2 separate regions of the Homo sapiens genome follow, and region 1 is linked to region 2. The links come from fine-mapping of genetic effects on gene expression. A gene starts in region 2. The other region holds a variant in brackets. All regions are shown on one strand. Distances are from middle to middle. Region 1 overlaps RGS12 (regulator of G protein signaling 12). Region 2 holds the start of RGS12 (regulator of G protein signaling 12).

Region 1 (16,118 bases), 47 kb before region 2:
CTGAGAATACAGGCGCCCACCACCACGCCCGGCTAATTTTTTGTATTTTTAGTAGAGACGGGGTCTCACCACGTTAGCCAGGATGGTCTCGATCTCCTGACCTTGTGATCCGCCCACCTCAGCCTCCCAAAGTGCTGGGATTATAGGCGTGAGCCACCGTGCCTGGCCAGAACGTTATCTTTCTTAAACTGTTTATAACTTACAGCAATCTGGTAAAGTATACTTCTGTGAAAACAAAAGTAAAAACATTTGCTTTTTCTCCCTACTCGATCCCTCCAAAATTTGGAAACTGTTCACATGTATTCTTATGGCAATGTGGTTATTTACAAAAAAAAAAAAATCTGTTCCCTCTTTGTAGCAGGATACAACTGAGACCAGTGGTTCTGTTCCCAATGCCTTGTCTGGAATCTCAAATTTGAGAACGTGCATAGAATACCCTGCTTCAAGGGTTCCTAGACTTACAGCGGGTAAGTAAAAACTGTCACTTCGTATCAGGCCCAGAAACCTTAAGACTGTAGGCAAAATCTATAGTCTGCCTTGGTTTGGCTTCCCAGCCTCAGGAGGTTGTTAAAATCGGAGTGATTTTTTTCTTGTGTGATCAATGTAGAGAGAAGCAGCCATGTTTCTGAAGAAAAGCTGCAATACTCCTGTTATTAGACTGGAGCCCTGTGCACTGTTTCCAAGCTCCTCAATTCTTCCAGCTTCCTCCCATCCAACTTTCTCCCATAGAATCACTAAAAGCAGAGAACTACTCTATTCCTGAAGCCCTATAAGCTGAAACTAAATGTTAAGGGACAAAATCCCATTCCTGATGCGTGGGCCACACCAAGAGTTCACCAAACCACTGATGCCACAACCAGAGACACTTAGACCACAAGACAGGACTAGAAGCCGACAGCTTCATGCTGTGGGCAGCTTCTCCAAGGCACTGGAATAAGAGTCCATATTATAAAGACACATTTACCCCTCTTAATGCCTACCTTTTTGACTCGGCAGAATAATGGTGTAATCGAAATTTCACAATCAGTAGCTTCTGCTGGGAACTAGATAGAACCCTAAGAGATCCTTGAGTCCCCCTAGTGGGTGACTTTGGGAACATCCCTAATACAACTGGTGCTCACTCTGCTTTAATCCAACTCAGTCATGGGACACTAGATGATAAAATTGCTCTAAATTATCCATTGCGTAAAGAAGGAAATGTCTGTGCTATTGCTGATACTACCTGCTATACCTGGATAAATTCTTCTGGGAAAATTAAGGACCATATACCCAAAATAAGAAAACAGGTCGGGGCATGGTGGCTCATGCCTGTAATCTCAGCAGAGGCGGGAAGACAGATTGAGCCCAGGAATTCAAGATCTGCCCGGGCAACATGAGAAACCCCATTCTCCACAAAAAGGAAAAAGTACACACACACCAAAAAAGGAAACAGGCCATATATTATAAAAAGTCTCACCCAATTCCCTATGGTCATTTGATTTATTCAACTGGTTGTCTTTAAGCCTATGTTCATGACTCAAAACATTATGCAAACTAGGATTGTCATATTATTATTAATTTCACTCTGCATTTTCCCTTTATAAATTTTTTATCTGTTGCTTAAGTCTCTGCAGAAGTACAACTCCTAACAGAATCGTGCTGGCCCAGCGCGTTGAGATGATGCCAACACCCATGGAACAGACAAAACCGTACTTAACAGTGGACTCAGGTAGACTGCGCCTGAGGGCCACTCCCTCCACACCTCCCTGGTTGCTCAAATGTGGCTAAATGAGCTCTGACACTGACTCCTGGTCACCAGTCACTTCCTGATGATGTGGAACCAGACCACACCAAACTGGGACAGCTCCATCCCAGCACCAAGGGGCAATCAAAGCCTGACTGCAGGATGACTGGTCAGCTATGCTTTTGGAGAAAGATCTCAATTAAAAGGGGGAAATGTGAAAGTTGTCAGAAAGAAAATGGAGTCACTTGTATTAAAAACCCTAACAAAGTGTTACAGAGCCAGAGAAGGCCAGGAAGGGAGGGTTCTCATGCTCATAGACCTGATAACAAATCCATCACAAAAGACTGCAAAACCACAACCTTGCACACAGGCCATCTCAGCCTCACATACAAAAATATTCCTCTGAGGACATCTGTCCCGCAACTGCCTGTCCAACCTTGGACTGGTCCCATCCTTGTAAGATAATTATCTCAAAACAATCCTGTGATCCTCCTCATTTTTCCTTGAAAAACTGCTGTCTTTCTTGACCTCCCTGAATATTCATAGTTTACTACAGCATGCATATTCTCATTGCAATGCCTATTCCCAAATATTAATAAATATCGTTTTCTTACAGAGAGCCTTCCTCCGTGTTATTCAGGACGATGGGCTCAAGAGGCAAACCACCCCTCACTTGGGAAGGCTGCTCAGATCCCTCTCCAAGGAGTCATGGAAGGCAGCCAGCAGCGAGCAGGGCCCACACAGAAAAGGACAGGCAGCCCTGCCACCTGGGCCATCCTCCTTGGCCCCAGTAAGAGATTTACAGCCAGGAAGTTTAAGGTGTGGGGCAAAGACAGCAGGGACCACAAGCCATGTGGAAAGCAGCAGGGCCCTGGTGGAGATGGAGCATCCACTGGGGACACCCAGTGATTAGACGCTGGAGCTGTCTATCAGGAGCATGGCACTGACCCTGGCATGGGGCACACCCAGCAGCAATCCACCATGAGATAGAAGTTTACACCCAGCAGGGAAGGGGCAGGTTGTGCAGAGCACGTGGCCCAGACCCACATATCATTCACCAGGGCACCAGCACAGCTCTGTCAGCCCAAACCTAGGGCCACACAGTGAGTTCCTCATGACCAACAGAAAAGGAGGAAAATGAACAGGACTTGTGCACAGATGGTCAGCTCAGCATGGCAGTATGAGCCAAAAATGGTCCCGGGGTCCTCAGCCTCAAGCTAGGCCCTGCCTTAGGTAGCACACACCCCTTTTGAGTCTTCATCAGCAGCATGAGCACCCCATTGCAGCCGATTCTGATTGCTGCCCGCCCAGATACAGCACGCTAGCCCTGACCTGCCCTCGAGTTCCCCGGAGAGACCAAAGCTAAACAGGCCATCCAAGGGCAGATTCCTATTTGCAGCCACAACGTGCCAATCCCCAGGACCCCTGCCATCCCTGAAGCCACCTTTTCTCCTGGAAGAGCAGGAGCTGGAGCAGTCACTGTGGACGGAGTCTGGCCACACCGCTCATGCAGATCCTTCCCAGCTAAGAACACTCTCGCCCGTCCCACACGCGCTGAAGGAGACATGTACAAGAATGCCGTAAGGGCAGACTCTCTCCCACTCCCACTGAGTGTCTATCGATAGCGGAAGGCATCAATCATCGTCATATACTCATAGCAGAATGCCATACAACAAGTAAAAGGACTGGACTGAAAGTCCAGGAGTAAATCTTGAAAACATGACACATGTTCTAGAATAAGACATTAATAAGAAGACATAGAATACAGCTGCACCTGTATAAAATTTTAAAACATGCCAAATGAGACAGTCAAAGGATCAGTGGTTGTCAGAGTTCAACGGGAGGGTGCAGGGTAAACAGGTGGGGCATAGAGGATTTCCAGGGCGGCGGCTTTCTCGGTGATACACAGCGGTGGGTGCACGGCACGGACATTTGTCCAAACCCACAGAGAGGACAGCACGGGCAGGAACCCTCGTGTGAGCTGCGGACCTAAGCTAATAATCATATGTCTACACTGGCCTGTCAACTGTAACAAACACCCACACCAATGCAGGACGTAATGATCCCGACGGCGCATTTTTAACAAGTGGGTGGGGGCATAAGGGAACTCTCTGTACTTTCTGTAAACCTAAAACTGCTATAAAAAATAAAATCTTTTCATTGTTCTTTACAAAAGAAACACAGATAGACGAGCCACACAAAATGACACTTACCCATGTCTGTGGATCACGCCCCGTCTTTAAGGGGGCAATGACAGGCCCTACCTCGTAGAGTATTTGTGGGGATTAAACCAGCTCATTTCTAGAAGTGTTCACTGGAGTCTGGCACACAGAAGAGCACCCCAGAAAGCCCTGTGACAGCTCAGACACATTGCAGGGTAGAAAGGTTCCCAAATGTGCATGGGACGCTGTCCCCCAGAAAACAGGGGTTACCACTACAGAGGAGGAGGGGAGGGGACCACAGGGACTCAAAAAACAGCCAGACGTATCTGCAAGGTGGACTTGCATTTTTTAAAACTTGAAGGAGAAAAGAAGAAAAATGAAAATTAAATTACCTCAAGATCATCAAGGGAGCGAGTGATACTGAATCTCTTGGATCTCCCAAATGATCTCCGAGCAGACGTGCGTTGAGAAGGCTGAGTGAGTCCAGTTCCCCGCCCAAATTTTGAGCCCTAAACACGAAGAAAAAAGGCATCAGGTTATTCTTTTGCAAAGAGATGTTTAGTCTTGTCCAATGCATGGCATAGCAGAAAATCAAGGAATACTGTGGAACAAAGACTTTTTAAAAAGAGAGATTTAAAAGTCATCCCAGGGTAAATCTTAGGTATATTTTATACAAGAAAAACATGCAAAATTGAAAAAAAAACAGTCATCCCAGGATCGTCAAGTATTTGCTCTGCCAACTGTGTGCCTCTGACAAAGCCTCCACCTCTGTAAACACAGAACAGGATGACGGCAGCCCACCCACAAGGCTGTTACCCAGATCAAATGAAATCACGTGCAAGGGTGCTTGGAAAGTGGACACAGTACACTGAGAGTAAAGATGACTAGTATGATGATTAGTAAAGATGAAGGCAGGTTTTCAGCAAAGTCGTGCTTTTTCATAATTTTGTAAGCACTTTAGGAAATGAAAGAATCCCTAAGCATTCAGCTGGTGTCTGAAGACCCAACCAACTCCGGCGCAGGAAATAACTGGCTATTAAAACATCCTGTCTCTCCTCCTCCAGGAAATGACCAGAATTAATTCAATTCGACAAACATCTATGTTGTGCCCATCATTATGCTAGACACTTCCCCAGATGAGAAGCTGGCTCCAGCAAATCAGTCGCCACCTCTTAAAAACAAAAAGCATCACAGTTGGGAGCTCTGCTTTCCTGAGGACTTGGAATCCTAAGTGACCAATTTCAGGCTTGAAGGAAGGGAACCTGTTTATGTCAAGATTTTGAGGCTCTGCAGCTACTTTTGTCTCTCCACCTGCATAAGAGTCTTGTAGAAAACCTTGCCACAATTCCTTGAGAGTCCCTAGGGAAACCTACAGCATGCCTGCACCTTTCTGGAAGCAGATGGAGCAGGCCACCCTCCCGCCTCTCCCCTCTCCTTGACCACCACGCTGACACACCCCATCATGTCCTCAGACCCATTCCCGCCTGGGTCTCCCTGCACTGCGCTGCTCCTCCTCAACTGAAAAGTCCTTCCTACCCCACCCATTGTCACGGCCCAGCCCCACACCACCCCACACCCCGGGGCCTCTGCAGCCCCTACCCTCCGCCCACACCTCCATCCTCCACCCTCCCTTCTGTCCACACCCCCATCTCTCCACCCTCCCTCCCCCCACACCATCTCTCCACCCTTGTCCCCTCCCCACACCCTCATCTCTCCACCCTCCCCTCCGCCCACACCCCCATCTCTCCACCCTCCCTCCCCACACCCCCATCTCCCCTCCCCCCACACCCCCATCTCTCCACCCTCCCTCCCCCCACACCATCTCTCCACCCTTGTCCCCTCCCCACACCCTCATCTCTCCACCCTCCCCTCCGCCCACACCCCCATCTCTCCACCCTCCCTCCCCCCACACCCCCATCTCTCCACCCTTGTCCCCTCCCCGCCATACCCCCATCTCTCCACCCTCCCTCCCCCCGCACCCCCATCTCTACACCCTTGTCCCCTCCCCACATACCCCCATCTCTCCACCCTCCCCTCCGCCCACACCATCTCTCCACCCTCCCTCCCCCCGTACCCCCATCTCTCCACCCTTGTCCCCTCCTCCCCCATACCCCCATCTCTCCACCCTCCCTCCCCCCATACCCCATCTCTCTACCCTTGTCCCCTCCCCCCATACCCCCATCTCTCCACCCTTGTCCCCTCCCCACCGCACACACCCCCATCTCTCGACCCTTGTCCCTGCCCACACCCCCATCTCTCCACCCTCCCCTCCGCCCACAGCCCCTAAAGACGGGCAGAGGGGTGTCACTATCCTCTTGGCAGGTGAGAGGTCCAGCACCCAGGGGCTGTGGCTGCCGGGAACACGAGAGGATGCTCGGGGAGGGACGCCACCACTGGGCCCCCACCAGGCCGAGAGAAGGCTCTAAGGCTGTCATCCTGAAAGTGGCGATGCCCAGCAGAGGGCAGCCGGCAGGCAGAGGCCTAGAAGCACAGCGGCCAGGTGCCAGATGGACCGGCCAACACAGGTGTCAAGCACACTCCAAGCTGAGGCGCCACAGTTGCCAGCTCACTCCAAGGCACTAGTGGCACAACTGCTTGTTTTCAAACTAAGGAGCAGGCCCCCGTGCACGCCGTGCCTCCGAGGCTGGAGAACGGACTGCACTGGCCTGCACCGGCCTGCACCTGCCTGCACCTGCCTGCTGCTCCCATGGGGCTCAGCTCAGGCTCCCGCCAGCTCCTGCCTTCTGTAAATCAGCCTGTAAGACACTCTTTGGAGGGAACCTGTGGTCCCATTAGGACACAGATGTGGCTTCCTGGTGTCTCTGCTCCTGATGGCAGGCACCTTGAGTGTCCTGCCAGCGTGCTCTTCTGTGGTGACTGATAAATTGCCACCCCCGCTCCCTCCTGCTTAGGCTGGCGTCCGTGTCCACGCTCTGGGTCCACACCCCGGGCGCCCGCCTCATGGCCTTTGTGCATGTTCTTCCCTCCCCTGACCCCTCAACCCAAACAACCCCTCTTGTAAGAGACCTTTAAGCCCCCGTCTAAGTTAAGACTCCCCAGCGTCCTCTCTCCCAGTCTTTGGGTCTTTTCCTTCCCACCAGTGACACCGCTGTCAGCCATGAGGAATCTCCCCCAGGGGACTGCCATGGGACGACAGCAGCAGCGCCCTTCGCTTCGTCTGATGCTGTCTGAAAACTTGCTGCCCAGCACAGCGCCCGGCTCCTGGCAGGTGTGCGGCCCCGGCAGAGGGGAGGCCTGAGAAGGCGCTGGGCAGTGCTCATGAGACACACGACACGGAGGCCACAACACGGGGGACTGACTGCCCAACAATGGGGAGCGCAGGGCACCTGTACGGCATGCAGACGTGTGTTGCGGCAACAGCAATAACGGGAAATGTTCAGTCCACTGCTAAAGCAATGAGTGACTTTGTTCTCATTATAGATTTGCTATTCTGTATTTTCTGCTCTTGAGAAGGGTGGGGAATGAACCCATGGCTTTGTGAGATTAAGGCTGTCAGAATCAAAATGAATCACTTGTGTTAAAAACCCTAACAAACAGAGCTGGGGAGGGCCATGAAGGGAGGGCTCACACATTAGTGTGCCTGCGAAAAACAAATCCATCACAAAGATGTGCAAATCACAGCCATGCACACAGGCCATCACAGCCTCACTCAAAACACACTGTGAGGACATCTGCCCAGCAACCGCCCGCCCACCTCCAGCCTGGTATCATCCTTGGTGCTGATCCTTGTGGCAAGGATAATTATCTCAAAACAATCATGTGATCCTCATTTTTCCTTTAAAAGCCTTTGTCTTCTTTGGCCTCCCCAGCTATGCACTGTAGACCATGGCAAGTATCTGCCTACTCCAATGCCCTGCTCCCAGATAAACATCATTTCTTTCAGAGAGCCTCTCTCTGTTATTTAGATGGACAGTGATAAGAGAGTTTAATTTTTTTTTTCTTTTGAGACAGGATCTCACTCTGTCGCCCAGGCCGGAGGGAGAGGTATGATCATGGCTCACAGCAGCCGCGACCTCCCAGGCTCAAGTGATCCTCCCACCTCAGCCTCCTGAGTAGCTGGGACCACAGGCATGTGCCAACAGGCCCGGCTAATGTTTGTATTTTTTGTAGAGACTGGGTCTTGCTATGTTGCCCAGGCTGAGCTGAAACTCCTGGGCTCAAGCAATCACTTACCTCAGCATCCCAAAGTGCTGAGATTACAGGTGTGAGCCACCACACCTGGCAGCCCTGACCACGCCCCAGGTGAGCGGCCCTTCCACAGTCAGCCTTGCAACTTGTTCCCAGCACAGGCAAAAGAAAGGATGTCTGACGCCTGCCCACACGTGGATGCACTGTGCACTTTGGAGATGTAAAGGAGAAAGGAAAAGTCTAACAAGCAGACAGAAAACAATTCTTGCAAAGCACTAAATCAACTCATGGAACGAGGGCCAGTAACAGATGTGACAACTTCCACAGCAGGGAGAGACCAGCGTTTACTCGTGTTTCTCAAATTGACAAAGTTTTGTAAATTAATAAATTCAGATCATCACCGCCGATTTAGCACCCCTGCTGGTGTGACATAATCTTGACTCTTCCCCAAAGAGTACTAAACAGGGAAAACAACAATAAAAATGGCCTAAAAGACCACTTGGTTCAAACTCCAGCTTTTAAGTTGAGAAGACTCCTCACGACTGTCTGAGAAGACAGGTGGCCCCCAGGGCACCATCTCCACCTCCCAGCCTTCGGCCACCACACCCAGCACTCAAGGGCACTGAGTGGAGCAGACACCGCCCGCCCGCCAACCACAGAGGCCGGTCACCCTGGCCCCCAGGCATCCAGGATGCAGTGAGCCAGCCTGAGCCAGCCGGCTTCAGGGAGAACCAAGGGCCTCAGGCCAATCAACCTGCCTGGCTACAGGGTCCCAAGGGACGGCCGGTCAACCGGCATTACTACCACACACAGGCCCAGAAAAGCATCGGGTTCCCTCCAAAGTAAAACCGCTAGAAATGAGGGGAGGGGAAGGGTAGAACCTTA[A/C]CCCCTGCTCAGGTACCAAATTTCTTGGCCACTCTCAGTGCCAACAATGAATTGCTGGGCACAGTGGCTCACGCCTGTAATCCCAACTCTTTGGGAGGCCGAGGCGGGTGGACCACCTGAGGTTGGGAGTTTGAGACCAGCCTGACCAACATGGAGAAACCCTGTCTCTACTAAAAATACAAAATTAGCCAGGCATGGTGGCACATGCCTGTAATCCCAGCTACTCAGAAGGCTGAGGCAGGAGAATCGCTTGAACCTGGGAGGCAGAGGTTGCCGTGAGCTGAGTTCACACCACTGCACTCCAGCCTGAGCAACAAGAGCAAAACTCTGTCTAAAACAAAACAGTGAATCATCCCATGCGACCATCAGTTCGGAGCAAAGAATCATTTTGGCGTAAGAACCATTCCAACGCCTCAATCCACAGATGAGAACTGGGAAGTCAGGGAAGCAAGTCCGTGCAAGGTCACACAGCTCATGGCTGACCTGAGACAACACCCAGCTCCTGCTGTACTACTGCACTGCCGTTTTTTATTAAACTTTCAAAATATTTATTCAATCTGATTTTAAAATCCAGATAACACAAAATTTACCAAGTTAGCTGGCTCAGTAGCATTAGGTGTGTTCGTACTGTTATGCAAGCATCACCACCGTCCTCCAGAATTTTTCATCTTCCCAGAACGAAGCTCTGCCCCCATTTAACACGCACTCTCCATTCCCCTCCCCCAGGCCCCCTCTCCCGCTTTCTGTCTTTATGAATTTGACTGCTCTAGGAATCCCACATAAGTGGAATTAGATAGTGTGTGTCCTTCTGTGACTGGCTGATTTTGCTGAGCATGGTGTCCTCAAGGGTCATCCATGTTGTAGCCTTCCTCTTCAAGGCTGAATAATATTCCGCGGTATGGATGGACCACACTGTGTTTATCCGTCACCTGATGATGGACATCTGGGTGGCTTCTGCCTTTCAGCTATTGCAAATAATACTGCTATGAACATGTGTATAAAGAGCATCTCCTCAAGACCTTGATTTCAATTCTTTGGGTATATACGTAGAAGTAGGACTGTGGGCCATGTGGTCATTGTACTGTTGGTTTTTTGAGGAGCCACCACACTGTTTCCCATGGTGGGTGCGGCACTTGGCATTCCCAGCAGTGCGCCAGGACTCCAACTCCTCCGCATCCTGCCCAACACGGGTCATTTTTCTCTCTTGTGATGGTGGTGGCAGTTGTTTTATAGTAGCCATCCCAAGGAGTGTAAGGTGCTGACTCACTGTGTGTTTAGTTGGCGCTGGCCTAATAATTGATGATGTTGGGCATCTTTCCACGTGCCCATTGACTACTTGTGTATCTTCTTTGGAGAAACGTCTATTCAAGTCCTTTGCTCATTTTTTAATTTTTCTTTTTCTTCATTTTTTTTTCTACTTCACAGTTTCACACTGGATCTTTGCCCATTTTTTTTTATTTTAATTTCTCTTTATTTTCTTTTCTACTTCACAGAATTCACACTGGACTTTTGCCCATTTTTTAACTGGGTTGTTTGTTCCTGTTGCTGAGTTATAGGAGTTCTCTATAGACTCTGCATATTAACTGCATATCAGATACATGGCTTGCAAATGTTTTCTCCCATTCTGTGGGTTGCCTTCATTCTGTGGGTTGCGTTTTTTAATGTGTAGAGTTTTTACATTTGATGTAATGCAATTTATGTATTTTTTTCTTTCGTTACCCACACTGCTAGAACTAAAAATTCCTAACCAATTCGGTCTAAATAAACACTAGTCCCTAAGCCCCAGTGGGGCAAGGACCATGTCCTGGTCACGACTACACCCCCACCCCTCCCACAGTGCTTGGTGCATACCAAGTACTCAATGAATACTTACTGAACAAATAGACTGTACACAAGAGAGTATGTAGCTTAAAAGAGAGACCAGATCATCCGAAGGTATTTCCAAAAAGAGGCAATATAGAGACTTACGAGGAGTCAGATTTCTAGCTCACATCTTCGCATCTCCTGCTATATTCTTCAGGGTTCACTCAGGAGACAGAAACCACCCGTAGTTCTAACAGAGAGTACTATGTAGAGAAGGGGTAGCTTGGTATTGAGGGATGGAAAGGCAGAGGGACTCTGAGATGCCATGGAGTAGCAACCTCGGGAAGCCGCTGCCACCCCAGGGCTGGGAAAATGCAGGGAAGCAGAAGGAATTACTCCAACTTGGCAGCTCACAGGAAAACAGCCGGTGGAGCTGGGGCCCAGACCACCGAGGGACAGGACATGGGGCTCCAGCCCTTGGGTTTTGTTTGTTTGTTTGTTTGCCTGCTTGTTTGTTGAGACAGCGTTTCACTCTGTCACCCAGGCTGGAGTCCAGTGGTGCGATCTGGGCTCACTGCAACCTCCACCTCCCAGATTCAAGCAATTCTCCTGCCTCAGTCTCCCAAGTAGCGGGGACTACAGGCACGCACCACCATGCCCGGATAATTTTTTTGTATTTTTAGTAGAGACGGGGTTTCACTATGTTGGCCAGGCTGGTCTCGAACTCCTGACCTCAAATGATCGGCCTGCCTTGGCCTCCCAAAGTGCTGGGATTACAGGTATGAGCCACCACGCCCGGCCCAGTTTTTTTCGAATTTTTAGAGTTGGGAGTCTCATTCTATCTCCCAGGCTGGAGCGCAGGGGTACGATCATAGTTCACTGTAACCTCCAATTCCTGGCCTCCCAATATGCTCGGATTACAGGTGTGAGCCATGGCACCCAGCCCATCCATTGTTTCTGAGGGGCCAGAAGGTTGGCGCAATGAGCTGGGCAAACTGCAAACTGAGAGGGGAAGGAACTGCCCCTGTGAGGGTGAAACGTTGCTATGGTGACACTCCTGCCTTGCCAGCTCCGGGGAGCGCCCCTGGGGACAGAGCCTGACAGGGATGCAGCTGTGAGCAGGAAGGTGATGCGGAGACCCTGTCGGTGTCATAGAGGGTGGGCTTAGGGCTGAGGGCAGTAAGCTGAGTAACCGGCACACCTGGTTAAATCTGTTACAAAACTCTGTGCGGCAGGAAGAATTCCAAGCCCAAAAGCAAAACTATTTTAGAATCAACAAAATTCCATTTCAAACATAAAACTAGACAAACTTACAGCAATGGTTACAGAGTAACGTGTAAGGAACCAAAGAAAGGTTTCTGGGTCATAGCAAAGCACGTTTTGTGAAAGGAAGGAGAAAAATGTGCACAAAGACTGGGTGTCCTATTCAAGAAAGAAAAAGATGAATATTACACATGAAAAGACATTTAAGTAGAGATATTAATTTAAATTATTCCAAAATATCTTAGGGCCTATGATGTCCCAAGCAATTGACTAGGACTAGAACCTTTAACGACAGAAACAAAGCACATAATTTCTTCACCGGTAAAGGAGGTGGGTGTGGACTAAGGAAATAAACCAACCAGGCTTGAAATCAAAACAAAACAAAACATAAGGCAAGAAAGCAGGGAGGGAGAACCTAGAAAAAGTGGATTCACAGGAAGAATGCAGTAATATCCCAGAGCCAAGACTCAATGTGCCAGTCACCCAACACATCAGTGACCCGCATCTGCCTGATCTTCTTCTTGAGCTGTCAGAACAATCTGCCACTTATAGTAACAATTCGAAAACAGAAATGGAAAAGTTTAAATAAAAAGACGAGTGCTGACTCAGAAAAGGCTGCTTTCACCAGATTAATAATAGACAAAACAGGCTTTATCCCTAATTTTAAAATTTTTAAATAAAAAGTTATTGAAATCCTCTGGAGGGAGGATAAAAATAAAATATAAGATTCAATATACGAGGAAAAGGAGAAGAAAGGGAGGGAAAAGAGAAGGAAGAGGAATAGAAAAGTTCTACCATTAATTTTTTGTTTTGTGAGACTACAGTAATCTTGATACCAAAACTCGACAAAGATAATGAGAAGGGAAAGTACGAGATAGTCTCACTCAAACACAGACTTTAAAATTATACAAAAATAGTAGCAAACCAAATACATCAGTGTATAAAAAATGATCATAAGTTAGGTTTATCTCAGGAATGCAAGTATGGTCTATTATTTGAAAATCAATCATTGTAATTTGCCATGTTAGCATCAAAAGGCAGAAACATGATCTCAATGAATGCAAAATAACAAAGAAAACAGCTAAAATTTAACACCTATTCATGAAAACAAATATTAACAAGTAGTAACGAAGTGAACTCTCTTAACCTTAATAGGGTAGCTAGATATAAAAAGCAACTAGTCAATTATACTTCCACATATCATAAGAGCTGGCATGCATAATTTATTCTATTTTAATTCCTTTTTCAACCAGCTTCCTCAGGTTGAAGCATTTACAATTTTTAAAAGGTACCATTTATAATGGCAAATAAAATTATAAGGTACCAAGAAATAAATCTAGCTAGAGAATAAATTTAATTAAAGATGTTTATGAAGGAAATTACAAAGTTTTACTGAAATAAGCCAAAATGAGAGAGAAGAGAGATACTATTTTCATGGATAGGAAGGCTTGATCTCCTAAAGATATCAATTCCCTCAAACTGAGCTACAGATTAAAACACAAAATATCAATAGCATTTCGGGGAATTTGTAAACTGGTTGTAGAATCTACATAAAACAGCGAGGCCCAAGCACAGACAAGAAAACCTGCCCTAGAAGACAGAAAGACGTATTATAAAGCTATAGTAATTTTTTAAAGTATAGGTGGGGATACTGACTAGGAAGGAACACAGAACTAAGAAACAGACCCACACGCACATGAACACATGATCCATGACAGAGGGAGCACTGCTGATCCACGTGGAAGGACGAGATTAGTGCTAGAACCACTGGTTACCCACAGAGAAAAAAGTTAACTTTCGTCTCACCTGATTCTTTTCATAAACATTAACTCCAAGAAACTTTAAGGGGAAAAAGGGAGAAAATCTGTTTTGACCTCAAGTAGTAATAAATGTATTAAATAAGACACAGACCGGGTGCAGTGGCTCACGCCTGTAATCCCGGCACTTTGGGAGGCCAAGGCGGGAGAGGATCACTTGAGGTCAAGAGTTTGAGACCAGGCCGGGCACGGTAGCTCACGCCTGTAATCCCAGCACTTTGGGAGGCCGAGGCGGGTGGATCACGAGGTCAGGAGATCGAGACCATCCTGGGTAACACGGTGAAACCCCGTCTCTACTAAAAATACAAAAAATTAGCCGGGCAAGGTGGCAGGCGCCTGTAATCCCAGCTACGCGGGAGGCTGAGGCAGGAGAATGGCGTGAACCCTGGGGGACGGAGCCTGCAGTGAGCCGAGATCGCGCCACTGCACTCCAGCCTGGGAGACGGTGAGACTCCGTCTCAAAAAAAAAAAAAAAAAGAGTTTGAGACCAGCCTGACCAACATGGTGAAACCCTGTCTCTACTAAAAATATAAAAATTAGCCAGGTGTGGTGGCATGTGCCCGTAATCCCAGCTACTCGGGAGGCTGAGGCAGCAGAATCGCTTGAACCCAGGGAGGCGGAGGTTGCAGTGAGCCGAGATCGCACCACTGCACTCCAGCCTGGGTGACAAAGTGAGACTCCATCTCAAAAATATACATATATAAAAGACACAAAGTGTAAACCATAGGAGAAAAGATTATACATCTGGCTAGAAGAGTGAAAACAGGAGTCATGCCCGGGGCAGGGACACGTGCGAAGTGCACAACCAGCCAGGGACTAACAGCCAGCGTCTATCATTCCCGCAGTCCATGAGGAAAAGACAGCCCAAGAGGAGAGAGGGACCAAAAGGTTTGAGTAGGCGCCTCAACAGAGAGGAAACGCAGAGCCTTATAAGCAAGGGAATGCAAATCAAAGCCACATGAGACACCACTTTACAGCTCCCAGATTAGCAAAAGATTTAAAAGTCTGGCAAGCCTACCTGGAGACAGGTACAAGAATGCTCACTAGTGCGTTATGAGTAATTCTTTAGTGGCTCTGTGTATGTAGCAGTAGATTCACACAATGGATTATACAGTGTTAAAATGAACAGACTGTGACTACCAATAACATCATGGATAAACCACTGAAATAACATGAAGTGATTAAAAACAAGTTGCAGACAACTGTGTTATTAAGCCATTTCTATAAAACTGAAGCAGCAGCAAAACGAATCAATACACCGCCACCGATTCCAACTCTTAAGACACTTCCGGTTCTGCAGGGATGTGGCGGCCACCTTGCCCTGAACAGTCTCACTTTCCTGGAAACCCCATAGAACACGAGCCAACAGTGAAGGGGCCACACTGGTCTCTGCCCCTTTGCTCAGGGATCCTCTACCTCCATGGCCCCCAAGCCATCTGTCCTAGTGATCCCAGCTTCTCAGGGAGCCCCTGCCCTATTCCAGGACGGTGGGGGCTTCTGTCCACTGCTTCCCAGCCCCTCCACAGGCCTGAAGCTGTCCTCACTGCGATACCATTCCCCAGAGAGCGCACTCGGTGGCCGTGGTCAGGATGAAACCCATGGGCAAACGCTGCAGGGACTAGGAAAGGTCACCTGGTGCAGGTGGCACAAAGCCCCAGGTCCCCAGCTCTGCCGCAGGCCCATGAGGCTCCTCTCCCTGGAGCCGCCGTTCCTTCCCAGGACTGGGTGGACTCCGAGTGCCGCTGCCCAGTGTCTGCCTCCCTTCCTTTCGCTGGGGATGGAGAGCAGTGCGATGCTGGCCCCCGGGATCCCTGTTTACACAGCGTGATGGCCAACGCCACCCTTCCCAGAGAGACTTACATCATGGGGCCTGAGCTGTGACCCTTTTAGAATTATCCACACTTTTTTTTTTTTTACAATCTATTTTGAAACTTCCTCTCATTGTACTGGAAAAGCAGCGTAAAATCTATGTGCTGAACCTGAAACTCTCCTGGCCTGCAATCCAAGGAGCCTGTCATTGGCTACACCATGTAAGTACAGTTTGTTTCCAAGGCCATCTCTCACCGACTTTGTTCTTATTAAAATAATTTTTTAAATAATTTTTACTTTTCCTTCAAAGGAAGTTTTTTTTTAGTAAATATGTTCATATTCCCATCATAAGAAGTTGAAACAACACAAGATAAAAATTCCCTGGATTCTTCCCAGTTTTCATTTACTACCTCTGAGATAACTACTATTACCCATTTGGAGTGTTTCCTTTGTATTCTTTCCATATATTTACATATAAACATATGTGCACTTTAAAATGTATAGGTT
Region 2 (16,118 bases):
CGTGGGGTCCAGGGGTCCAGGGGTCATGGGCCTCTGGAAAGTCAAAGAAGAGCCCATAGGCCCTATCCTTATGGTGCTCGCATCAGAGGAAGGCAATAAAGGACGCACAGTCTCTCTGCCACCAGGCTCATCAGGTTAGTTGACCCATCCAGGAAATGCATCTATTCTAGGCTAACACTTAAGATCCAGAAGTCAGGTGTTGGTAGGGGAAGAACTTTCTTTTAACTGGAGTGCTAGCTCCCTGATCACTTGAACGCTCTATGAGAAAAACAAGCAAACTGCCAAAGACCAATGCCTGGCTACTAATCAAAGTGCCGGCAGCTCTGTCCGTAAATTGACAGTTCCCACATCCTCCCACGCTGCTAAATCAAGTTCCAACCAGACACAAGACACAAAAACCAACTCTGGGAGGTCCTGGAGAGCTATGAAAAGCAGGCAGAAAGTGGAGGGGAGTTGTCCCCTGAAAGGAGAGAGCTGCACCAACTAAAACAAGTGTTTCTAAAAATGGCTAGAGCACAGGTAGAAGTTGTGATCCTCCCAGCTTGAAGAGTCCAAGATAGGGCTTGGGGAGGGCTGGGTGGCTGAACAGTGAGGGGCATATCTCAGAAAGGAGGTCACTGGGGAAGAGGCAGTCGTGAGATCTGTTAGTAAATTCTGCCTAGGTCCTGGCCAGTGGTGAGCCATCCATGCACAGAGAGACCCCAGAGTCCAGCAGAAGGAGGCAGCCGGAAGGTCAACAGCACCAAGCAGAGACTGCAGCAGAGATTTTCATTTGAGTCCAGACAAATTAACTTCCAGAACAAAAATCAACACTCTTCAGAAAAAAGAAGTCACTACAGTTACCATCTACAATGTCCAGTACACCATCAAATAACACTAGATGTTCAAAGAAACAGGAAGATGTGGCCCATAGTTGGAAGAAGCCAATAGAAATTGATCCTGAGGTAATGCAGGTGTTGAAATTAGCAGAAAAGAACATTAAAGCCGCTAGTATGTGTTCAAAGATTTAATGACAGTATGATCACAATAAACAAATGACAGAGCAGAGAAATGGCAACCATAAAAAATAAGTGAAAATTCTAGAAATAAAAACTACTGTAACTGAAATTTTAAAATGCACGAAACTTAATAGCAGTTTGAAGATGGTGAAAAATTACATATCCAAGAAGTTCAACAAACCCTGAGCAGGACAAATACAAAGCAAACCCTCCTAAGAACATCACAATCAAACTGCTGGAAGCCAAAAATCCCAGGAGGAGCTTGAAAGCACCTCATCATATAACATAAAGGAGCAACGCAGCTACCAGAGTGACTGACTTCTTAGAAACAGCAAAGGGGCAACATGACGAGACTATGAAAAAATAAAATGAAAAGTAAAAATTGCCAGTTGTGGGGGTGCATGCTTGTGTTCCCAGCTACTCAGGAGGTTGAGGCAGGGGGATCGCTTGAGCCCAGGAGTTTGGGGCTGCAGCGAGCTATGACTGCACCACTGCACTCCAGCCTGGGCAAAAGAGTGAGACTCCGTCTCTTAAAAAAAAAATTGAACAAACATCAAAGAGATCAACAAGATGAGAAAAAAGAGAATTAGAGGATCAACCTAGGAGGTCCAACCTCCAAATAAAAGTTCCAGAAAGAGAAAACAGCAAAACTGAAAGAAAATTATCTTTGAAATTTAAAAACTTCTATCCTCAGACTGAAAGGGCCCACGGAGTGCCCAGCACAATAAACGGAAGCAGATGCCATTATCGGGCTTCTCAGAACACTGAGGGAAAAGAGCCGCTTCTATGAGCTTGAGGCAGGAGAGATCACACACAGAAGAACTGAAATCAGAATGGCGTCAGACCTCAACAGCACAGAAACCAAATGCAATGAAGCAACATTTTCAAAATTCCGAAAAAATCATTGTCTAAAATTTTATACCCAGCTAAGTTAAAAGGTAATTGGAGAGTAAAATAAAGATGTTTTCTAAATCAAGGACCAAAAAAAATACCTATGTGATGTTTCTTAGGTATCAAAAGAGTAGGACTTCAGCAAAACGAGGAGTGAGCCAAGCAGAGAGAGAAGAGCAGGACCCAGTGCACAGGGAGCCCCACAGATGGAGGACAGCAGCGGGAAATGCAGGTGACAGCGGCGCAGCAGGTCTCCTGGAGACCAGGGCAAACGAGAGCAGGGAGAAGGCTCCAATCCCAAAGGGGTGGGGATGGGGCTAGTGTCCTGGATGCAATGAAAAACAAACCATTTTGATAGGTGGGTGACTAGAAGATGCTAATCCACAGGGCTGTGCGAGAGGACCTGTGCTCAGGGCACTCCTTGGCGCAGTAATGAGCAATGCTTACAGTCACACAAGAGCAAGGACTGTCGATTTCACCAAAAATGCAGTGATTATGATGGCACATAGAGGGACAGGGAGGCTGGTGGGACAGAGGAGAGCTAAACCTCCCCACGGCCTTTGGGAGAAATAAAAAAAGAATGTCTTAAGCTTTAAAGGAGCAGCTTCAACAGCAGTAAATGCCTGAGAAAACAGACCACTTAGGATCCCGCCTCTGGGGGCTGCGGCCAGGCAGGGCAGGAGAATGCCTACAACTGGACGCTTCAATCCACAGACTCAGCCCTTTTTCAGGCATGCTGGAAGGACAACTAAGATCACTGCTAAGGGACACAAAGATGTAGGAAAAGATATGTGAGTAGAGTGTGTATGCGTATCGGGTATCACCATGATTACAGAGTTGGGGACAGCAAGTGCATGGAAAAGCAGAAAGAAAAGAAAAACAGAAAGAACAAACTAGATGTTTCTTTTCTCTTTCACTGAAGTCCAGACCTTAAAAGACACAGAAGAAGGGAACTTCTAACACAAGAGTTCCTTGCCCGGAGCCCGAGGCAAGAGGCTCCTTCATGGAAGAATCTAGGCAACTTCTGCAACGGTGGCCCCCAAAACCACAGGTAAAACTGCATGAGCACTGTGTGGAGTATCCAGTTTGGAACTGGTAACGACCCCACCTCCTAAAAAGGCACAGCATGAGTGACCTCCCACAACCTCTCATGACTGGGGCTTGCATCCTGAGCAAGGCTTGTCTTCCTTCCCAGGACACCTGTTTCCAGGATGGCTCCCGCCTCTCCCCAAGGGCAGGGAAGTGAAACCACAGGGACCTTCCCTGGACAAACCCTGCCCATCCCAGAGAAGAGGCATGAGACGGGTGCTCCTCGCACACAATGGGAAAAGTGAAGTCATTTCGAAGACAAGTGAGGAGCCTGCTGTAGGCTGAATAGCGATCCCCAAAGATATCCAGGCCCTAATCCCTGGGACTGTGAAAGCCATACGGCAATACGGATCTGCAGATGTGAGTAAACTAAGGCTCCCAGGACAAGGAGATTATCCTGGAAATTTGAACATGGCAGAAGAAGACAGAAGCTAGGCGCGGTGGCTCGTGCCTGCAATCCCAACCCTTTGAGAAGCTAAGGCAGGAGGATCACTTGAGGCTAAGAGTTCAAGATCAGCCTGGGCAACATAGTGAGACCCCATCTCTACCAAAAAAAAAAAACAGAAAAAATTAGCTGGGCATGGTGGCACATGCCTGGGGTCCCAGCTACTCAAGAGGCTGAGGCAGGAGGATGGCTTGAGCCAGGAGTTCAAGGCTGTAGTGAGCTATGATTGTGCCACCGCACTCCACCTGGGCAACAAAGTGAGACCCTGTCTCTAAAAGGAGAAAATAAAGAGGAGGAGAAAGACAGCGATGTGACAATGGAGGCAGGGCAGGAGCCGGGAGCCAAGGAATGAGGCCAGCCCCCAGAAGCTGACCAGGGGGGCAGTTTTCCTCCAGCCCCCAGAAGCTGACCAGGGGGGTGAACGGCTCTCCTCCAGCCTCCAGAAGCTGACTGGGGCGGGCCAACAGTTCTCCTCCAGTGCCTCGGGAGGGAGCTTGGCCAGCTGACGATGACACCAGTTTCAGCCCAACTAGGGCAAATAAACTTTTGCCATTTTCAGCCACTAAGTGAGTGGTGCTTTGTTACACAGCAATAGGAAACTCATACAACTGGGAAGGGAAATGTTTCTAGGAATTCCACCAAATTCAAATAAAATGTAAAATGGTCTGGGCTTTAGGATTTTGTGTGCTTGAAGCCCTGCATGTGTTAAGTCGTAACTAATGAGTTGTTTATTCCTTCAGCCTGCTTTTTGTTGTTGTTGTTGTTGGTTTGTCTTTGTTTTTGAGATGGAGCTTTTTTTTTTTTTTTTTTTTTGAGACAGAGTTTTGCTCTTGTCACCCAGGCTGGAGTGCAATGGCGCAATCTTGGCTCACCGCAACCTCCGCCTCCCAGGTTCAAGCGAATCTTGTGTCTCAGCCTCCCGAGTAGCTGGGATTACAGGCGTCTGCCACCACACCCGAATAATTTTGTATTTTTAGTAGAGACGGGGTTTCACCATGTTGGCCAGGCTGGTCTCGAACTCCTGACCTCAGGTGATCCACCTGCCTCAGCCTCCCAAAGTGCTGGTATTACAGGCGTTAAGTCACTGCACCCAGCCCAGCCTGATTATTTTGCTTGGTCAGTCTCAGACAAAAATAAAGGTCCAAAGTCAATGTGATCCACATACTGTCAACCAGGCCTGCAGAGCCCACTCAGCCCCCTTCTATCAGCCGGAAGCGCTGACTAGCGGCAGCCTCAGCCTGTCCTCCATCTCCTCTACCCCCGACCTTCCCACAGCAGCAGCCAGGCCGGCTGGGTCACCAGCTGTCACCTCTGGGCCCTCACCACCTCCAGGACCTCACTGAGTCCCAGCTCCCAGCGCCACAGGTCTCCTCGGCCTGGCCACCCCTTCTTCCCCGAGACCCTCATCCTAAACAGGGCAGAAAGGGAGCCAGCCCTTGACCCTGGATTCCCTCCTCTTTGCAGTGCCTGTCGAGTGCCTCCCTCCCACCTCCTGACCCTCCCCAGGACATGCCCTCAGGCCGCGCCACCCCTGCCCTCTCCTGAGCACTCCACAGGTCAGTACTGTACCTCCAGTCCACGTGAGGGGCCTTTCCTCCGCCCTTGTCTTTGTCAACCTCCCTGAGACCTCCGGTCACCACTGCCCTGTCGCTCCTCCCTCTGCTCTGCCAGTCACAGAGGCATCCGCATCATTGCAGTTACCAGGGCTAGAACTGTAAGCCTGTCTGATGGCAGGTTCCAGCCTCAGGAGGTCTCAGAGATAAGGCTGGACTTGCAGTTTTAAGAAAAAGACCCAGACAGGGGTGCACCAACTTGTGCAGGCTCAGCCACCCCACTGCCCTTGCCTGAGCCCCTGCCCTCAGCCAACATGGCCTCCCCCACCTGCAGAGCATCCAGCTGAGGCACCACGCAGGGCCCGGGCACCGGATACCCATCATCTCAAGTCCCCAAAAGCACTGGCCACGATGGACCTTTTTATATCGCTTTTTCAGGGGAAGAAACTTCGCACTGTGACAATTACTTTCTAAAGTGAAATATAAACTGGTTCTCCCTTACTCAGAATTGCTCTGCCCTCCCCACGTCGCCTTCTCTAGGGGAAGGCCAGCAGGACTCCACCCCAGCAGCCCTTGCTGCCCAAAGCCGCCTCTCTGCCCTCCTTGGTAGTCTCCTTGCTGTGAATGGTGGGGCTGCTGCCTTGCCTGGGAAGGCCCCCCAGCGCCCCTTCTGTGCAGGCCTTGCCGGCCATCCTGCACGTCCCTGTGGCCTCAGAAGGGCCCTGCACAGGACGGCATGGACCACGCTGAGGACTTCAGACAAAGACACTCTTAGCCCTTGCAGCAGCTCCAAAGACAGGTCCAATGAGGAAACTCAGGCACAGAGAAGGTGGTCACCTGCCCAGGGACACATTCCCAGCAAGTGACCAAGCAGGTGAGAGGCCAGGTGGTCCTCTCTGTCCACACTCCACGGCTCTGGGCCCCCTCTGTGTTCACCCTCCACTGTCTACACTCCATGGCTCTGGGCCCCTTCTCTGTCTGCACGGCTATGAGACTCTGTCTACACTCCACAGCTATGGGTCCCCTCTCTGTCTACACTAGATGGCTCTGGGCCCTCTCTCTGTCTACACTCCACGGCTCTGGGCCCCCTCTCGGTCTACACTCCACGGCTCTGGGCCCCCTCTCTGTCCACACTCCACAGCTCTGGGCCCCCTCTCTGTCTACACTCCACTGTTTATACTCCATGGCTCTGGGCGCCCTTTCTGTCTACACTCCACAGCTCTGGGTCCCCTCTCTGTCCCCATTCCACAGCTTTGGGCCCCTCTCTGTCTACACCGCACGGCTCTGGGACCCCTCTGTCTACACTGCACAATCGCGGCACCGCGGCTGAGGCGACCCCAGGTCGCTGCAGTGCGTCTGGAGTTCGGGTCTCGGAAGGCAGCTTCTGCCCTAACAAAGCGGCCGCTCGTGGAGTCCGACGAGGGAACCCTCCCAGCGCTCCCGGGCGCATCTCGCCCGCGGGACCCCCTGCCCGGCGCCGCCCCCGCGGGTCCCGCCAAGGGCCCGGGCGGGCCTCACAGCGCGGGGCCCCAGGAGGCCGCGCACCCGCCCGGCCGGAGGCCCCACAGGCCCGCGCCCCGCGCCGCCCGCCCCCGCCCCCGCCCCGCCCCGCCCCGCGCCGGGCCCGGGACCAGGAGCCTGAGTCAGGCCGGCGAACAAAAGGCAGGGCGGGCGGGCGGCGACCCCGAGGGGACGGGCGCCGCGCAGGGCTGGCCGGGATCGGCCGGGAGGCGGAGGGCGCGGGCGCGCGCCCCGGAGACGAAAGAAAGAGCGGAGGCGGCGCGCCCTGCCCCCGCCCCGGCCCCGGCCCCGCACACCTACCGGGCCGCGCCGCTCGCTCCCGCTCCGGGCGCTTCGGCCCGCGCCACCGCCCGCGCGCGCAACGGTCGCCTCGGCAGCCACCGCCCCCCGGGGTCGAGGCGAGGGCGGGGCCGAGGCCGGAGGAGGGGCGGGGACGGAGAGGGGCGGGGCGAACCTGGTGAGGCGGGGCCAAGGGGGTGGGGTTGGGGCGGGGCGATGCGGGGGCGGGGCACGGGGCGGGGCGAGGGCCTTCGCGTCGGGACAGCGTGGTAACGGGACTGCCAGGGAAGCAGGGATGAGAAGAAGCGAGGGACGGGGCCTCCACGGCCGGGGGCGGGACTTCCGTTGGGGGCGCGGCGGCGCTGGTGCGCACGGTGTGTACCCGCACTGGCCCGGCCCTGGTGCTGGGAGCGACTGCGTTCCCGCAAGCTGGTTTTCTCTGCCTCCGCTGGCCCGGGACACCCTGCGAAGGGCAGGTCGGTGTGGCCGGGAGGAGCCGCCCCTGCCTGGGCTGTCTCTGTCCTTCGCCGTCGGTGTCCGAGGAAGTCCCGCTCCCGTTGGGTCTCTGTGCCCGGGAAACCTGGCTGTGGGGAGTCAGGCCCCGGCGCCCTGGCTTTTCGGCTGGGCAGATGCCCGGAGCTGGCGGCAGCTTCGGGGGCGGCGTGAGTTCCCGCGGCGAAGCCACGGGGACAGCCAGGAAAGGCCGTTCCCTCCGGGCCCCGGGACGCCCGCGAAGGCGGCGCGGTGACTGCGGCGTCCAGCGGGTCTGCCCCTCCCGGAGCGCGGGCAGCAGCGAGGGCGGGACCGGAGGCACCGCTGGCACGAGAGGAGGAGCTGCCCGGCCCCGGCCTGCGCCTCTGGCCCTGTCCCAGCCGCCGCCTTCACCCTTTAGGCCGGAGTTCCTTCCTCGCCCTCTTCGTGTCTTCCTTCCCCGGCGCTGGGTCTCCCTGCCCCTTCCTTCCTGCCTTCCCCTCATTCTCTCCCGCCGCGTTTTTCCCTCGAGACGCATCCGTCGCTGCTGTTCACGCTCCAGCCCTGCCGCCCGCCCAGGGACTCGGCCCCTCTCGGGTTTGCTTCTTTCCTGTCACCTGCCTTGATGGGCTCAAAACGCTTCCCCTCCGTCCCCGCCACCGCCCCATGGTTTCTTGGCAGCTCTCCATCATCTAGTCTTGTGTGATTAGTTTGGATCCCAGGAGGAAACCAATGGCATTCTCAGTGGGACAATTAATTAAGAGTCCAGCAGGGTTCCCGCTGGCAGAGGCGCGGTCCGGGAGCCGGGAAGCCACAGGGCGGTGCTGAATTGGGACAGGTAACAGCAGGGAGGGAACTGTTTTCACCTGCAGGGCTGAAGGAGCGCGGCCAGAGCGGTTACAGGAAGCCAGACAAAGAGAGAGAGATACTTAACAGGAGCTGCGACCTATGGCCAAGGGACACAGCCAGCCCTTGATGACCCAGCAGAGAGAGCCAGGGAAGAGGCCAGGCGCGGTGACTCGTGCCAGTAATCCCAGCACTTTGAGAGGCTGAGGCGGACAGATCGCCGGAGCTCAGGAGTTCGAGACCACCCTGGGCAAGATGGCAAAACCCCATCTCTACTAAAATACAAAAAATTAGCCAAGCGTGGTGGCACGCGCCTATAGTCGAAGCTAGTTGGGAGGCAGAGTCAGGAGAATCACTTGAGCCCCGGAGGCGGAGGTTGCTGTGAGCCGAGATTGTGCCACTGCACTCCAGCCTAGGTGACAGAGTGAAACTCCATCTCAAAAAAAAAAAAAAAAGAGCCAGGAAAGAAACTGCCCCCACCCTGGCCCCCCCAAAACTGTGGACCTTCTTGGCTCCTGCCTATGCGCAGATGGTGGAATCTTCCAGAGCAGCGCCAAGCCAGAAGGAAGCAGGCCGCAGAGCTCAGCCTCCTGAGGCTCCAGGGCAGGGACAAGTGGCCCTGAGTGAGAGATGGGGAAACACCACCTGCAGGTCTCTTCTTTCCCTTTGGCTTTTTCCTCTACACTTGCCCGGCCTCCAGGTGCCTCATGGACAGGGGTAGGGGAAGAGGACGAGCAGCTCATACGAGGGGTCACCGAGCCTGTGAGAGAACTCATGCCCAGCAGGGGGGTGGCCCAAGAAGCTGTTTCTGTGGGAGGAAGCACCCTAGTCCATCCCCGTGAAAGCCAGGGCCCCCAGAAGTGGGGAGAAATTGCCTGAGACGGAGAGAAGGTGTCAAGTGTCATGCTGGAAGGTTTTGAAAAGGTAGGTCTTGCCAATTAAGCAAAACTCATTCAGTCCATCTGGAGGGGCTAGACACAGAACCATGCCCAAGTCTCTGGGTGGTCAGTCCCTGGCCCCTGTGGTTCTCCTCCTGTAGGCTTCACTCTTGGGCCCAGACTGGCAGGGCGGCCTCTGTTGGCACAGGGAGGGCCATGGAGAAGCGTGCACCTGCTCTTCCGTGCCTGCCAGGCAGCGGCTCAGCGGCCCTACCCACAGCTCATAGGCTACAGTTGCTTAAGGAGGCACTCCTGAGTTGAACAAGTGGGATGGATGATAATTCTTCCACGGGACTCGGGGTGTGGGGGCGTCCCCCCACATTCCAACACAGGCTACGACACGGATGACCCTTGAGGACACTATGCTAAGTGAAATAAGCTCGTCACAAAGGACAGATACTGTCTGATTCCACTTATAGGAGGTTCTTAGAGTAGGTACATTTATAGAGACGGATAGTAGAAGGGTGGGTGGCAGGGGCGGGGGAGAAGAGGACAGAAGTTATTGACAGTTTCAGTTTGGGAAGATGGAAGCATTCTGGAGATGGGTGGAGATGTTTGCTCAACAGTGTGAAGGTGCTTGATACCCCTGAGCTGTACCCTTAACAATGGTTAAGATACAGCCATTATGGAAAAGAGTATGGAGGTTCCACAACAAATCAAAACTAGAACTACCGTGTGATCCAGCAATCTCATTGCTGAGTATGTATCCAAAGGAAATGAAATCAGTGTGTCAAAGAGACGTCTGCACTCCCAGGCTCAGCACGGCACCACTCACAATAGCCGGGATGTGGAACCCACCTAAGCGCTCGTCGATGGATTAGGTGGATAAAGAAAACATCGTGAATTACTGAATACTCTGGAGCCTTAAAAAGAAGGAAATGTGCCATCTGCAACAACACAGATAAACCTGGGGGACATTATAACAGTGAAATAAGCCAGGCACAGAAAGACAAATATTGCCCGGTCTAACTTACATGTGGAATCTGAAAATGTCCAAGTCACAGAAACAGAGAGTAGGATGCAGGTTACCAGAGGCTGTGGGTGGGTAGGAATTGGGGAGACATTGGTCAAAGGGCACAAAGTTTCAGCTATGCAGGATGAATTAAGTTCAGAAGATCTATTGTACAGCATGATGACTAGTCAATAATAATGTACCCTTGAAAATCTCTAAGAGTAGATTTTAAATGTACTCATCACAAAAAATGGGATGTGAATGATGGGACACATTAATTAGCTTAATCACTCTGTAGTGTAAACATATATCAAAGCATCAGATTGTACAATTTTTCATTTGTTAATTAAAAATATATAAATATACTATGGGATTTGCACTAATTAAAAAAGTAAAAAATAAAAATTGTAGGCCAGGCACGGTGGCTCATGCCTGTAATCCCAGCTCTTTGGAAGGCTGAGGTAGGTGGCTCACTTAAGCTCAGGAGTTGGAGACCAGCCTGGGCAACACAGTGAAACCCCGTCTCTACCAAAAACACAAAAAATTAGCTGGGCGTGGTGGTGCGTGCCTGTGGTCCCAGCTACTCAGGAGACTGAGGCAGGAGGATCACTTGAGCCTGAGAAGTGAGGTTGCAATGAGCCAAGATCGCGCCACTGCACTGCAGCCTGGGCAACAGAATGAGATCCTGTCTCCAAAAAAAAAAATTGTGATGGTTAAGTTGGTAAGTTGTACGTCATGTGTGTTTTACCCCAATAAGAAAACATGTAAAACAATGTTCTCTGAGGGGCCCACACCTTACTTGGGGACCTGGTTGTGGGTGTCCTCAGCAGGTGGAGGCTGATAGGGGGAGGTGGGACCTCGGACTGGGTCCCTCCCACAGCAGGGCAACAGGATCCTGATGGCAGAGGCAGGTAGATGCACTTCCTGGGCAGGGAATGGCAGGCAGAGTGGGCAGCCAGGCTGGAGTCAGCCCACTCTAGGGGCTACACCAATGGGGCTCGTAGGGGTGGGGGGATGGCGGCTCACTCAGGGTTGACGGCGTCCATAATTAGAGACAAGGAGAGCTGGGAGCTGGGACCTGGGGCCCCTGAGGCCCCCAGCAAGCCACATGCCTCATGCAGTCTCCATGTGGGAATCGGTGCAAAGGCCCAGAGTCCCTTCACGGGGACCGGATCCCTTTGCAGAAGGCCCTGGAATGCCCTGTCAGCCTCTAAGCAGGTGTTTCCCTAGCCTTCCCTTGGGCCTGTGGCAACATGCCAGGGTCCATACGTCCCGGAAAGGAGGAACCTCCAGACTTTGGGGGCTTGCTTGTGTCAGGGTCTGAGCCGACCCAGGCAACAGAGGAACCCAAACCCCATCTGTCCTCCCGAGAGAGTTGGGGTTCGTCAGAGCTTGACCAGGTCCACCTCAAGGGACACCCATGGGCCTGCATGTCCCCAGTGAGTATTTTCCTGGCCCCAAAGCATGGGGGAAGCTGTGCCTCAGGAGCTGCACCAGGAAGCCAGGCCCAGAGGGGAGTGCTGGTGGCCAGGCGTCCGGCAGGCCTCTGCGCGGCTCACACCCTTCCTGCCCAGTGGGGATGCTGCCCACACCCACGGGGCCCCCTTGTCAGCTGCCCCCCTCCTGTCAGGGCCCAGCTCTGTGTCACAACCTTTGTGAAGCCAGTGTCCCCACTCCAGCCCCAGCCCTCCCACACGCCCACCAGACCCCACACACCCGCCGGGCCCATCACTCTTGGGGGTCTGCGCACACTCCCCATGCGGCAGTAGTTTATCTGCCATCGAATCCTTGTGTGCGCTCAGAGCAACGAGCACGCAGGCTCAGGGAGCTCAGGGCCAGCAGGTACGGGCCCACGGTGTCTCTCGACGGCTCGGCCATGGGAGGGGGAGGACCCAGAGGGACTCTGGCGCTGACGCTGGGAAGCAGGGCAGGGATGGAGCGAAGGGGCTGGCGTGCCCCCAAACAGAGCTAAGGGGACAGGTTTGTGTGGGGCCCGGTGAGTTTGGGGGAGATGTGGGAGCTGAGGGCCCCCACCCAGGCCCCGTGGGACAAATGAGCCTGCCAGCCCCTTGCCTGCACTCTGCCACATCTGAAATGCTCTGTCCCGGGACTACCTTCCAGGTGGGGCAGCCTCCTGTGCCCGTGTTGTGGAATTCACCATCAGTGAGCAGATGAAATAAATTAAATGAAGCATAATGTTTTTAACCAGAATACACAAAGTTAATTAAATAGAGCATATTGTTACTAAGTAGAGCTCATGGCAATTAGGGACGTTGTCACCAAATAAAATATGCATTAATTAAGTAGACCATATTATTCCTACACAGAACTTCCTCGGGCCGCCAGGGCCAGGGGCTGGGGAGGTCCCAAAGGCCAGCGGGCAGGGGCAGGTTCAGGAATCAGGAAGGGCTTGGCCACGTGTGTGGCGTGAACCCCTCCTGTGGGACCCGGCTTTGAAATGTCTCTTCTTGTCAAAGAACCGAAGCTTGGCAGCAACAGAGCTGCTCCAGCTGGAGGAATACCAATTTGGAGAAGATGTCCTTTTTTTGTTTTTTTTTTCAGACCATGTGATGTGCCTTGAGAAAATGTATGTTTAGGAGGGTGTTTTCCTTTACAGAAAATAAACGTGAAATAAATCAGAAAGCATCGCCTCAAAACAAGAAAATGACATCGGAAATGTTTTAAATGTTGCTCTTCGAGTCCACCTTGAACAATCACGCAAACGCCGCCCTCCCGGGGCTCTGCACAGCGTCGGGGCCTGGGCGCTGCTCGCTCTTCCGCTGTTCAGTGAGCAGGTAGCGCTCAGAGCTCACCTTTTCCCGGAGGATTATAAAAGAACTAGGTGCCCCTTTTTCTCTGTCTTCCTCAGTAACTCCCTAATATATGCCCAAAGCTGATGCTGGCCCCAACCCATTCACCCATCAAGTCCCAGATCACCATCATAGCCAGGTCCCCGAGGCCTCCCCAGCCCGAGGGAGCTCCCGGCCTGGGCGGAATTCCACTCAATCCTGCCGGAGCAGCGTCGGCTCCCGCAGGCACTGCTGACCGGGCTCCCATTCGGTGCCTAGCAGCGCACTAAGGGCCTGACGGGGGCTCTCTGACCCTCTCACAACCCTGCACATGCCCGTTTACAGATGCAGAAACTGAGGCCTGGGGAGACAAAGTGCTGGGAACACGTTCCCGCTGAGCCTTTCCCCGGTGTGCAGCGCTGGCCCCGCCTGGCTGCCACAGGCTGCCTTTCCTGCCCCTGACCCTCATTCCTCCTCACTCCCTCGCCCTGCATCCACCTGCGGGAGGGAGGAGAGCAAACCCCACACCGCAGCCCCCAGCACAGGCTTCCACCCCAGGAGGCCGGGGGAGCAGGGCCCACAGGGGCTGGCTTTAAACCAAGAATGGAGCTTGGATTAATATCTCAGGGTTAGGGTAATGGATTTGGACTGACTCTGAATTGAGACTGTATTTGCCAGTTGAGTGACAGAAGCTGCTTTTTATGTAGGAGCACACAGAAAATCCCCAGGCAGCCAGGAGCTTTCAGGGCCGGAGGAGGTTTGCCCACCGCATACGCAGTAATGGGGAACAGAAACCGGGCAGGCTGCATTTGGTGATCTCAGGAGAAAGGCTTCCTCAGTGTGTCGAAAGAAACCACACGCGGCCTGGGGCAGAAGACCTGCCCTTAGGGTGGCCGAGTGGCCTCTCCTGGCTCTAAGCATCAAAGGTCCTGCACCCCTGGAACCTCCTCGGTCCTAGGCAAAACAGACAGTTGGTGACCCTCCCTGTGGTGGCCTCACGAATAACCAGAAGGACATGCCAGGCTGGACGGAGGCACTGCCTTGCTCACCTCAGGCATCTGGGCTCCTCTCCACGTTCCCTGGGCTCCGTTCTTTTGGTGACGGCCCCAGCGGTCCCTGGAGCGCAGCCCGGCACACCGGCAGGAAGTGGTGAAGCCGTGGCTCCCTCCATCTGGGCTGGTGTTTGCAGGACATTTTCCTCACGGCGAAGCTGAGGGGTGACAAAGGAGTCTACGGAGCCCTGCCCCAGGCGCGGGCGCTCCCCAGGGCATGAGAACCCAGAGTCCCGCCCATGCACAACTCCTGTGCCAGGACACAGCCTGGTGGCTCTGACCAGCCAGTCGACAGAAGTCTGCTCTGGAAGGGGACTGGGGTGGGGGCAGAGGGGATGAGGAGGAGCCGGGAGGCACCACCTCGAGCTCACCCCCAACGGTGACAGTGGGGCTGGGGCTTGTTCCGGGGCGGGGCAGCCCGCCGGACCCAGCCCGAGAGGTTAAGCGCGCGGCTCGGGTCCTGGAGGCCACCACGTGGCCTGCGTCCTTGGGCCCTGGGAGCTTCCAGGGCTGAGGAGGCCACGGACACAGGACTTACAGGACAAAGGGAGGTGTAGCAGAGCGCTGGGCACCAGTCCCCCTTCCTTCCAGGCCCCCGTGCTCCCAGAGGCCCAGCCACGCCACCCTGGCACACCCTTTGTCCCTCACATTGCTCTGGTCACTTCAGTCATGACCCCCAAAACAGGCCTCTGCTGGAGCCGTAGCACTTGCTATGAATAGAGAGCGGGAGCTGAAGGAATGGTTTCCGCACGCTGCCTGAGCGGCCGCCTCGGTCTCCCCTTACTGCAGCCAGCCCGCAGGTCCGGATTCCCTGCCTCTGCTGTCCCACCATCCAGACAAGACCCACCAGCTGGGCCACCTGTCAAGTCCTCAGTGGGGGCCACTTTTCTGCAAATGCCCCAAGAATGCTATGGGGCTCTCCGTATCAGTGCTGTCCAGAGAAACAGAATCCAGTAGGGTGTGCAGATAGACAGAGATGCAGAAAGAGAGGAAGGGGAGAGACTGATTTTAAGAAATTGATGCATGGGCTGGTGGGGGCCGGCAGGTCTGCATTCTACAGGGAGGCGCTGGCTGGCTGGAGACCTGGGGAGGAGCTGCCGCCGCCCCTCAAGTCCAGAGCACCGTGCTGGCAGCCTTCCCTCCTCCTTGGGAGCCTTTTTCCTCTCAAGCCCTTCAACTGCTCAGATGAGGCCCACCCACACCGTGGAAGGTCATTGGCCTCACGTGCAGTTCCCTGACTTAAATGTTAACCTTATCTAAAAAATACCTTCACGGTGACATCTAGACTGGCATTCGACCAAACACTGAGCACCGTGGCCTGGCTGCTACCTCTGCCTCCCACTGGATAGTCCTTTTTTTTTTTTTTTTTTTTTTTTGAGATAGGGTCTTGCCCTGTTGCCCAGGCTAGAGTGTAGCAGTGGGATCACAGCTCACTGCAGCCTCAACTTCCCAGACTCAAGCCATCCTCCTACCTCAGCCTCCTGAGTGTTGAGATTACAGGCATGCACCACCGTGCCGGCCCTCACTGAATGCTTTTTTTTTTTTTTTTTAGATGGAGTTTCGCTCTGTTGCCCAGCCTGCAGTGTAGTGGCGTAATCTCGGCTCACCGCAACCTCTGCCTCCCAGGTTCAAGTGATTCTCCTGCCTCAGCCTCCCAAATAGCTGGGACTACAGGCACCTGCCACCATGCTCGGCTAATTTTTGTGATTTTCAGTAGAGAGGGGTTTCACCATGTTGGCCAGGCTGATCTTGAACTCCTAGCCTCAGCCTCCCAAAGCGCTGGGATTACAGGCATGAGCCATGCGCCCCGCCGGATGTTTCTTAATGTCGCCCAGCGGGGCGGTGGGGTAGTTTAGGGAGCAGCTGAGCAGCCAGCACACACAGATTCACCCCCACACCCGCCCTTCAGCCCTCCCCTCCAGGGCATCCTGCTGGCGCTTCCCATTGGCCAGGGTGAGCTGGGCTTCAGCCAGCCCAGCAGATTGCTCATGCCGCCCCTGGGGCTCAAGCCAACAACCCAATTCCCAAACCCAGGTGGATGCCATCAGCCAGTGCAGTCCCGTACGGCTTCCTGCTTAGCCTGGCACTCCTGGAACCCCATTCCACCTGTGTCCCCAAACGCCTGCTCCTACAGATTGTTGACCTTGGCCCAGAGCAACCTTTCGCCTCTCTGTCCAGATTACGCTGGGATGCAGCAAATCCCAACGGGCAGGGGGTGGGAGGTGAAGTCTTTGAAAACAAGGGAAGGCTCGTCCTCTCAGGCTGGAGTCTGGGCTGCCTCCTGCAGTGGCTTC

What was found. PIP is the estimated chance that this variant, and not a neighbour inherited with it, causes the effect.
Region 1: its variant is fine-mapped to the expression of RGS12 in whole blood (GTEx, PIP 0.97). The same link has a PIP of 0.9 or more in blood mononuclear cells.

Annotation. Positions count from the first base shown.
Region 1 is chr4:3,331,213-3,347,330 of GRCh38, reverse strand. RGS12 (regulator of G protein signaling 12) reads right to left here. Exons shown (of 18, transcript NM_001394154.1): 3 at 4,278-4,394. Among named protein-coding and RNA genes, the nearest start is that of RGS12, 46 kb to the right of the region's middle. The variant A/C (reference allele first, on the strand shown) is at 8,920.
Region 2 is chr4:3,283,779-3,299,896 of GRCh38, reverse strand. RGS12 (regulator of G protein signaling 12) reads right to left here and starts at 6,876. Exons shown (of 18, transcript NM_001394154.1): 1 at 6,798-6,876. RefSeq lists silencers at 4,522-4,717, 6,741-6,790, 6,801-7,280, 7,461-7,570 and an enhancer at 5,502-6,087.